Regions from separate parts of the Homo sapiens genome. Here region 2 is reported to be linked to region 1. Evidence: microRNA targets listed by miRTarBase, many of them from high-throughput screens and not tested one by one. Region 1 holds a microRNA gene; the other region holds the end of a gene's coding sequence.

Region 1 (5,000 bases):
AGAGACGGGGTCTTGTTATGTTGCCCAAGCTAGTCTTGGACTCCTGGGCTCAAGGAAGCCTCCTGCTTCAGCCTCCCAAAGTGCTGGGATTACAGGTGTGACCCACTATGCCTGGCCTTTTTGTTCATTGTTTCTTCTAATGCCTCACTTTAAATGCTGTTGAATAACTGAATTAAAATTAAAGATGTTAATCCTAGCACTGTTTTTTTAATTTAATTTTATTTTTAATTTTTTTTGAGACGGAGTCTCGCTGTGTCACCCATGCTGGAGTGCAGTGGCGTGATCTTGGCTCACCGCAAGCTCTGCCTCCCAGGTTCACGCCATTCTTCTGCCTCAGCCTCCCGAATAGCTGGGACTACAGGCACCCGCCACCATGCCCGGCTAATTTTTTTTTTATTTTTTTTAGGTGAGACAGAGATTTACTCTCGTTGCCCAGGCTGGAGTGCAATGGCACGATCTCAGCTCACCACATCCTCTGCCTCCCAGGTTCAAGCGATTCTCCTGCCTCAGCCTCCCGAGTAGCTGGGATTATAGGCATGTGCCATCACGCCCGGCTAATTTTGTATTTTTAGTCGAGACGGGGTTTCACCATGTTGCCCAGGCTGATCTCTAACTCCTGACTTCAGGTGATCTGCCTGCCTCTGCCTCCCCAAGTGCTGGGATTACAGACGTGAGCCACTGCGCCCGGCCATTTTTTTGTATTTTTAGTAGAGACAGGGTTTCACTGTGTTAGCCAGGATGGTCTCGATCTCCTGACCTCATGATCCACCCGCCTTGGCCTCCCAAAGTGCTGGGATTACAAAGTGCTGGGTGGCGTGAGCCACTGCGCCCAGCCAATCCTAGCACTTTTAGAGGCCGAGGTAGGAGGATTGCTTAAGCCCAGGATTTCAAGATCAGCCTGGGCAACATAGTGAGACCCCATCTCTATTAAAAAATAAATAAACATGTTGACACCTCAGATCTTGTGTACTCCCTGTGAAGAGGTGCTCATTCTGGCAGGGCATGGTGGCTCACGCCTGTAATCCCAGCACTTTGGGAGGCTGAGGCATGTGGATCACATGAGGTCAGGAGTTTGAGACCAGCCTGGCCAACATGGTGAAACCCTGCCTCTACTAAAAATACAAAAATTAGCCGGATTTGGTGGCATGCACCTGTAGTCCCAGCTACTCGGGAGGCTGAGGCCTGAGAATCACTTGAACCCAGGAGGCAAAGGTTGCAGTGAACCGACATCATGCCACTGCACTCCAGCTTGGGCAACAACAAAAAGATGCCCATTTAATGTAAGGGGCAGGTTTACTGTCAGGTAGCGTTCCTTTAAGAGTTCATCGGCTGGGCCAGGTGTGGTGGCTCACGCCTGTAATCCCAGCACTTTGGGAGGCCGAGGCAGGTGGATCACCTGAGGTCAGGAGTTCGAGACCAGCCTGACCAACATGGAGAAACCCCGTCTCTACTAAAAATACAAAATCAGCCAGGCATGGTGGCTCTTGCCTGTAATCTCAGCGACTCGGGAGGCTGAGGCAGGAGAATCACTTGAACCGGGGAGACGGAGGTTGCCGTGAGCCGATATTGCATTATTGCACTCCAGCCTGGGCAAAAAGAGTGAAACTCTGTCTCAAAAAAAAAAAAAAAAAAAAGTTCATCGGCTGGGCGTGGTGGTTCATGCCTGTAATCCCAGCACTTTGTGGGGACAAGGTGGAAGGATCACTTAAGGTCAGGAGTTCGAGACCAGCCTGGCCAACATGGTGAAACCCTATCTCTACTAAAAATACAAGAAAATTAGCCAGGCCTGGTGGTGCATGCCTGTAATCCCAGCTACTCAGGAGGCCTAGACAGGAGAATTGCTTGAACCCAAGAGACAGAAGTTATAGTGAGCCTAAATTGTGCCACTGCACTCCAGCCTGAGTGACAGAGCAAGACTCTGTCTCAAAAAAAAAGTTCATGAGACTGGATTCTTTCATGTGCCCTCACAGCCCTAAAACACCTGGACTTCTCTAGCAAATCATTTGCAGGAACTGTTTTAAGCAAAATGTTTCTTCTAAGATGTCTGATATTTTTAAATGGCTTTTTTTTTGGCTTCCCTGTTCCAAGGTTAGACAGAAAAAATGTAGCAAGTATTGGCCACTTTAGGTACAACACAGATTTCTCCTATATTTGGAGAGTTAATTATTAAATCAAGAGTGTGAGTATTCATTTTCAGTTGGAGCCCTATGGAAGAACTGCTTTGCTCTGGGCTCTCTCCATCTGTACGTTATCTGATATTTAGCTTTATATCACTGGGACATGGTTGCTGCACAAAGAGAAGACAGCTGGCCTGCCCTGGGAGCAGGGTCCCACGAGTTACAAGAGAGTCAGAGAACAAACCAATGTTGTCAAGGTTACACCTTCATTTCCACTGTTCTTTGTTTGAAATGTTATCAGAGCTGCCAGGCACAGTGCCTCATGCCTGTAATCTCGGATATTCAGGAGGCTGAGGTGGGAGGATTGCTCAAGGCCACAAGTTCAGGACTAGCTTGGGCAAAATAGTGAGATTCCATCTAAAAAAATATTATTTATCAGTAATTTTAAAACAAAATTAACTGGGCATGGTGGCACATACTTGTAGTTCCAACTGTTTGGGAGGCTGAGGTGGGAGGATAACTTGAGTCCAGGGGTTGCAGGCTGCAGTGAGCTGTGATGAAACCACTGCACTCCAGCCTGGGTGGCAGAGAAAGACCCCATCTCTCTTTTAAAAAAAGTTATCAGTAGCTCAAATTTCATTAGCTACTTTGTGAAGATGTGTTGATTCTGCCATGAAAGATTTTCTCTGAGAGTCCTATCTGTCTGGCAGCTGGGGAGTAAGTCACCTTATATTGATCTTAAGATTATGGAAGCCTGGGCACGGTGGCTCACGCCTGTAATGCCAGCACTTTGGGAGGCCGAGGCAGGTGGATCACTTGAGGTCAGAGTCGGAGACCAGCCTGGGCAACATGGTGAAACCCTGTCTCTACTAAAAATACAAAACTTAGCTAGGCATGGTGGTGGGCACCTGTAATCCCAGCTACTCAAGAGGCTGAGGCAGGAGAATCACTTGAACCTGGGAGATGGAGGTTGCAGTGAGCCAAGATTGAGACATTGCTGGCTGACAGAGCAAGACTCCATCTCAAAAAAAAAAAGGGGGGTGGGTATGGAAAAGAATGTAATATTTGTGGAATTGCTATGGTTTAATGTACTTTGTATTTTTCTTTTTTTGGTTTCTTCATAGCTCCGTATACTATTATCACGTTCCCTTTTCTATTTGCTGTGATGTTTGGAGACTTCGGTCATGGCATTTTAATGACCCTTTTTGCTGTGTGGATGGTACTGAGGGAGAGCCGGATCCTTTCCCAGAAGAATGAGAATGAGGTAATGTTTAAGTTACATCTGCATTGAACTGAAATTTTATAATTTCCCAAGCATTCATTATGAAAATTATGATCTGGAAGTCTTTTATCCATGAATTTATCAAAAGGAAGTAGAGAAGTTATGTTCATTTTAACACCAAAGACGACATGTGCAAGCTGGAAGTGGTAGTGTGTGCCTGTAGTCCCAGCTACTTGGAGGCTGAGGCAGGAGAATCACTTGAGCCCAGGAATTCGAGACCAGCATAGGCAACATAGTGAGACCCCATCTCTAAAAAAATAAAAATTATTTAGGTTTGGTGCAAAAGTTATTGCGGTTTTGGCTGCCAAAAGAAATGGCCAAAACCGCAGTAACTTTTGTGCCAACCTAATAAAAAAATAGAGGCCACATCCTGTGAAAGTGACTGTCTCATTAGCATTGTATTTTGGTTTTTACTTCAAGCTCTCTGAATCAGGATGGGGTAAAGTAGTGCTGGAGAAAGGGGCAGGTATATTCTGAATAACATTGTCACAATGTGAGCTGCAGTGAGTACATTCTCATTACTTCTTTCTTCTGGTTCCCAGATGTTTAGCACTGTGTTCAGTGGTCGATACATTATTTTATTGATGGGTGTGTTCTCCATGTACACTGGCCTCATCTACAATGATTGCTTTTCCAAGTCTCTTAATATCTTTGGGTCATCCTGGAGTGTACGGCCGATGTTTACTTATAATTGGACGTAAGTTGCAGAAGAAGCTAAAATTCAAAGCTTATTCCTTTCATGTGCAGCCCTGATTTTTAAGACAAGTGGTAAACTGACACTTCTTTAGGAAGTGGTGACAGTGTCTCCTCATTCATGCTCCACACTGTGAGTTGCTTTGTGATTTGTTCAGCAAGTATCCAGGAACTAAGATTAGAAATGATTTTTTTTTTTTTTGGAAACTAAAACCAGATTCCCCAGTTCCCTACTTGATTGTGTGTTTGTGTGTTTAATTTTTCTTTTTGTCATTTTGGATCCCTCAGTCTCAGCTGCTAGTCTCTCCTCTTTATTTTTCCCCTCCCATTTTATTGAAGAGACAAGATAGCTACAGTAATTTATTTTGGGGTCAGTTTCTGGACCCTTGTTGTTTCCCTCTCTTGTTCAAAAATAATGTGACTTTTTCCCTGTCATGGTAGTGAAGAGACGCTTCGGGGGAACCCTGTTCTACAGCTGAACCCAGCCCTCCCTGGAGTGTTTGGTGGACCATACCCTTTTGGCATTGATCCAGTAAGAGGACTTCCTTCCTATATGCTAACCTCAAATTTTTTAACACTAACCCTGAAGCAAGAGAATTAAAATGAAGATAAATAGTTATGTGGGCTTTCACTGGGCATGGTCGCTCATGCCTGTAATCCCAGCACTTTGGGAGGCCGAGGAGGTGGGATCACCTGAGGTCAGCATGGTGAAACCCTATCTCTACTAAAAATAAAATATTAGCCGGGCGTGGTGGCGCATGCCTGTAGTCCCAGCTACCCGGGAGACTGAGGCAGGAGAATCGCTTGAACCTGGGAGGCAGAGGTTGCAGTGAGCAAGCTGCACTCCAGCCTGTGTGACAGAGCAAGACTCCGTCTCAAAAAAAAAAAAAAAAAAAAGAAAGAAAGAA
Region 2 (5,091 bases), not on the chromosome of region 1:
CCACGTGGCTCTTTCCCCACTTAGAGTTATTTTCCTTACCTGCAGAAATTGGATTTATCCTAATGACTTAGCACATCCCACAGCTCAAATCTTTTTCCAGATAGTCTTTCTTGATTACTTTGGCCTACATTAATCTTTCTTCTGTTTTGAATTCTTACAGAATTTACAGCTTTCCATTTCATTATAGTCGGTCTTATGTTTGGTTTTGCTTCCTAGCTTAGTCTTTGATTGCCAGGTAGAGTTGATAGTACAAAAAAAAAATATTTTTGTATTGTCTTTTATTTCTAGTATATCAGTGAGGAAAATGAAAGTGCTCAATATATTCCTGTTGATTAAATAAATTTAATTGAAAAGTAGCTCTTTTTAAACAGTTTGATATACATTCACTGTGGCACATTTACATTTTAGATTAAGTAAAAGGAAAATAATATGTGTCTATTGCTAATAAGAACAATATAGAAGTTATGCCTTACTGGTTGTCAATAAATGTTCCCATTATAAATAACTTATGATTTTTGTTTATAAACAAGTTATAAATAACTTGTTTTGATGGATTTTTTGAATTTTACAGATTGTACAAGAATCTCCATTCCTTACAATGGATCTTTTGGAATCTTGTTTTCCTTATGTCTTGCTGAGAAATGCATACCATGCTGTCTACAAACAAAGTGTTACATCTTCTGCATAAAATTACCTACTTAATCAAGATAAGCACGCATTTTTGTTGCCTTGGTTTTACCTGTAGACTGTGGAACTATTTTACCTTAAGACCTGAAAAAGTTTTGTGGATTATAAATTTCTTTCATACGGTTGTATTTTCTGATCATTGGTTTCTTAATATGGTTGTACTACAGTATACTTGGTTGATTTAGGTTGCACATTCACTGAATTCACTGAGATTATTCCTATAATTTTAAAGTATCATTTATTTGAAAAACATACATTATCAACATGTTTTTGATATTTGATAATGAAAAAAATCTTTGCTTGTTTATTTCTGAAAAAGAACTGTATTTAGTGATTATTTTAGATAGTGATATTATAGTATTCATCTGTGTGTAAATTATTTCATATAGGGAAGAGTTCTGATCTGTACCTATGGTTCTTATTGAAAACAACATTGGATGTGCATTTCTGTGATGTTATGAATACATTTCTACTTTATTTTGAAACATTTGCCAAACTAAATACTGTAACACTGTATAACATTTAAAAATGTTAAAGAACTGCTTAGTATTAGAAGCAGATCATTTCCCAAAATTCTAAGAGCAGCAGCATATGTTGTTGCTTGTATAAAGCCTAGCGATAATTTTTAGACTAACTTCCATGGTGCCCTGTTGGCATTAGCACTACCATTGTACCCTGCTGTATAATAAACAATCTTAGACATTTATCAACTGTTGATACAAATGTTAGTCCCTAACCACTTTTTATATATGTTTTAAATTTTTGAAATTCAAGTGTACCTGCCATAACATAAAATAAACACTAGACTGTATCACACTTCGATTGATTTCTTTAAGATCCTTGGATATTCGTTCAATAATAATAAAGTTTTTGTTTAAACTTAGTTTGAAATATAAAAAATAATGGTTTAGGAATGTCTAAGTACAGCATTCGATACCAGGTCAGCTATTATATGATTTGTTTAAATGTTTTAAAAAACATTTTATTGAAAAAAATACCAAAATTAGAAAATAAAATTACACAATACTTCTTAAAAATTAAGAACTTAAAGAAAACTTGTATGCTGTCAACTTGCTCATTTTATCTGTAACCAAATAGAGTTATTTAAAAGAATAGGGAAAAAAAATTGAGTGATCATGGGACTAGTGAGAATGTTGAGAACTGCTGCATTAGTCAGTAATGAATGGGAAAGACATAAAAGGGCCTATTGCTTAATAGTTGGCATGGAGGGCAAAGCAGCTCATTTAGTTTGAAAACTAACCCAATGTTTTGCTCTTTGATTGGCATTGTTGAGGCTGTTTCTCAGCAGCTTTGTATATGAATATCATAAAGAGCTTCTGTTCACAGCTTCTTATGTATACACTGGTAACTTGTGTTAAGATAAAAGAAGGCTGCTGTGAACTCAGTTATAATGTTTTTCTTTCTTCAAACATAGAGAGTAGAATGAAATTGAAGTACTATGAGATTATGCTATTATTTTGTGTATGATTTGTCCAGCCTATATTTAAAGTAGGGAGTAGTTGTCACTATCTGTCGAAAAATTGTACTTGTTCCATAAAGATTTTTTAAAAAGGGAAATTTTAAAATGGCATAGTTCAGACCTGAAATAGTCTGATTTACACAGTGAGCAGTCAAAACTAAGATTTAATGCCGTTTGTTTTGAAATATTAGGATCTTAGAGAGGTAATAACTTTGTTGGCAGTGATCTCTGGAGAGGTAAAGTAGGAATTTGGATATGTACACTTTGGAATCATATGTGAAAGGGCATAAGGATGAAAATAAGGCATTCTCTACCACTGCTAGGCTGAGAAAAAAATCGCTCCTCATAGTCACCTGAAGTTTTTGTCCAAATTTTTTCTCATACAGCAAAGGCGGGGGAGGAGGCGTGGCAAAGGTAACTTGGAGGAAAAAGTTAAAAGTAAATTGACAACTACTATTTTTAATATCTTGTTTGTTTTATTTTCTTCTAAACTTACACAACAACATACTATTTTTGTTGTTTTCTCTACATTAATGTGATCATACCATACATACTGGCCTGTAATCTGCTTATTTCACTCAGTAGTAGAAAAAATGTCTTTAATATTCTTTTTAATACCTTTATAGATACCATAACTAATTTAACAATTTCATGGCCAGGCGTAGTGGCACACGCCTATTTCAGCACTTTGGGAGGCCAAGGCGGATGGATCACTTGAGGTCAGGAGTTCAACACCAGCCTGGCCAACATGGCAAAACCCTGACACTACTAAAAATACAAAAATTACCCAGGTATGATGGTGCACACCTATCATCCTGGCTACATGGGAGGCTGAGGTGGAAGAATTGTTTGAACCCGGAAGGAGGAGGTTGCTGTGAGCTGAGATCACACCACTGCACTCCAGCCTGGATGACAGAATGAGACTGTCTCAAAAAAAAAAAGAAAATACTCATTTGGATAGATTGGATAGATTTTTAGACAATTTCTTTTCATTATTATAAATGTATATCTATATCTTGGTAAAGTTGACCTGTTATTTTTTTAGAATAATTTTTCAGAAGTAAAATTGCTTCCTTTCTGCTGCTTTTTCATTCACTTATTTAAGCAAGTATTTTTAGATGCCTGCATGTAATGGTGAGCAAAAAGGTGACCCTTTTATAGTTGAGCTTGGATTTTAGTGATGGTATACAATAAACAAACCAGCTTCTTGAGACGGAGTTTCACTCTTGTTGCCCAGGAAATGGGCAATGGCCTGATCTCGGCTCACTGTAACCTCCGCCTCCCGGGTTCAAGCAATTCTCCCATCTCAGCCTCCTGAGTAGCTGAGATTACAGGCGCCCGCCACTACGCCCAGTTAATTTTTGGTATTTTTAGTAGAGATGGGGTTTTACCATGTTGGCCAGGCTGGTCTCGAACTCCTGACCTCAGGTGATCCACCCACCTCAGCCTCCCAAAGTGCTGGGATTACAGGCATGAGCCACCACGCCCAGCCATGAGCAAACTTCTGATGGTGACTGGAAAGTATACAGGATAATGTGGGGAGGCAGTGGTGAAACTACTTTAGAAGAAAGTGTTAGAAGAAAGTGTCATCTGTGTAAGAGAAAACATTTGAGCTGGTACGTGAAGGATTAGAAGGAACCACAAGTGGGCTGAGGGGAGGAATAATAAAGGCAAAGACCCAGAAGGCAAGCACAAACTTGGCATGTTTGAGAAGTTAGAAGTGTGTCATCTGTGTCTCTGTCATGAGGAGTGCTCAAGTTCCCTCTAGGAGCCTTATGGGCTATCTAGCTCTTTTTCTCTTCTGATCATGTGCTTGCTTGCTTTCTTCTTTGCTTATATAGCAGAGTTCACAAATTAAATCTAATGTAGGCTGGTTAATAAAGGAAATGAACATGAATTCACTGATAGGCTCTTGCATTAATGTGAAAATGTAAAGTCTGTTGTACACCATCAGGCCTTCTAAATGAAGCCCAAATTCTGTAAGGTAGTGAATTGTAACCTACTGATTAGTACATGATCCATGCCCATTCTGTTATAAGGACTTGCCTTTCTGAGACTTCACCTGTATTATTCCTAAGACTTTTGTGAATAATCCTTAAAGTAGTGACTCCTTACATCTTTCTTTCATTTCTTCTTTGTAGTCACTTGAAATGACAGCATGAACCATCATTTCATTTGAAGGCCTGAGCCTGAATTTTCAAATAGACAAAATGCTCTCTTTCTCCGAAGATTTGCCATGACCTCTGCCTTTGGGAAAAAATATTTGAGATTTTAAAATTTTTATTCTGTAGTACAAAAATTATGTTTTTCGTTAATTGGTCCTGTGGAATTGGAAGGAAATTTAATATTTATTGACTCTACTTTGGTATTATTTTCAGAGTGAGAAGTAACTTTAAGTGTATTAAAATTTCATTCATTTTTGCATGAACCAAACTTTCCCTACACATCGCTGTCCTTGACTGTCCAGAGTAAACATGTCTAACTCTGGAATGTTTCATTTCCAATAAAAGTATTCAGCCTGTCATTTTGGGCCTAAGTAAAATGGGATAAATTAGCAATCTGAAGTTAGGATCCTAGCCACAGAGGGCCATGTCTCATTTCTGGTTTAAGTGCACCCCTCATCCCCAGCCCTTACCTTCTTCTTTCTCTTAAGGATTGAGACAATCCTCTTGGTGCTCTTGGTGCAGGTGCATCTTGGTCACCTCTTACATGAGGGCCACAAACTTGGTAAATGGGTGGCCTGGAGATGGGGTTGTACTAGGTATGTGACCTTGGTGATTGCCTTGTCTCAGTTGTAGTATATGGCTGAGTCACATTCATAGTACACTACATACACATACTGACCAAATGCCAATGGCTAAGGCTTGAAATTATTTCACCAAGACCTAAACTGAAGATTACCATCATAAAATAAGCTTCTAGAA

The links. Region 1 holds the annotated microRNA hsa-miR-548at-3p (CAAAACCGCAGUAACUUUUGU, at 3,718-3,738, shown strand). A microRNA usually pairs through its seed, bases 2 to 8, with sites in the 3' UTR of a target mRNA and lowers its output. Matches are read on the target gene's strand: a 7mer-m8 pairs with bases 2 to 8, a 7mer-A1 pairs with bases 2 to 7 and ends in A, and an 8mer does both.
Region 2: miRTarBase lists NCKAP1 as a target of hsa-miR-548at-3p. Seed matches in the 3' UTR shown: 7mer-A1 at 732-738 and 7mer-A1 at 3,551-3,557.

The regions. Positions count from the first base shown.
Region 1 is chr17:42,491,093-42,496,092 of GRCh38, forward strand. It overlaps MIR548AT (microRNA 548at), which reads left to right and starts at 3,681; the gene lies at 3,681-3,738. ATP6V0A1 (ATPase H+ transporting V0 subunit a1) reads left to right here. Exons shown (of 22, transcript NM_001130021.3): 12 at 3,242-3,381; 13 at 3,942-4,096; 14 at 4,534-4,624.
Region 2 is chr2:182,921,299-182,926,389 of GRCh38, reverse strand. NCKAP1 (NCK associated protein 1) reads left to right here. Exons shown (of 31, transcript NM_013436.5): 31 at 572-5,091. The coding sequence ends at 688. Among named protein-coding and RNA genes, the nearest start is that of FRZB, 57 kb to the right of the region's middle.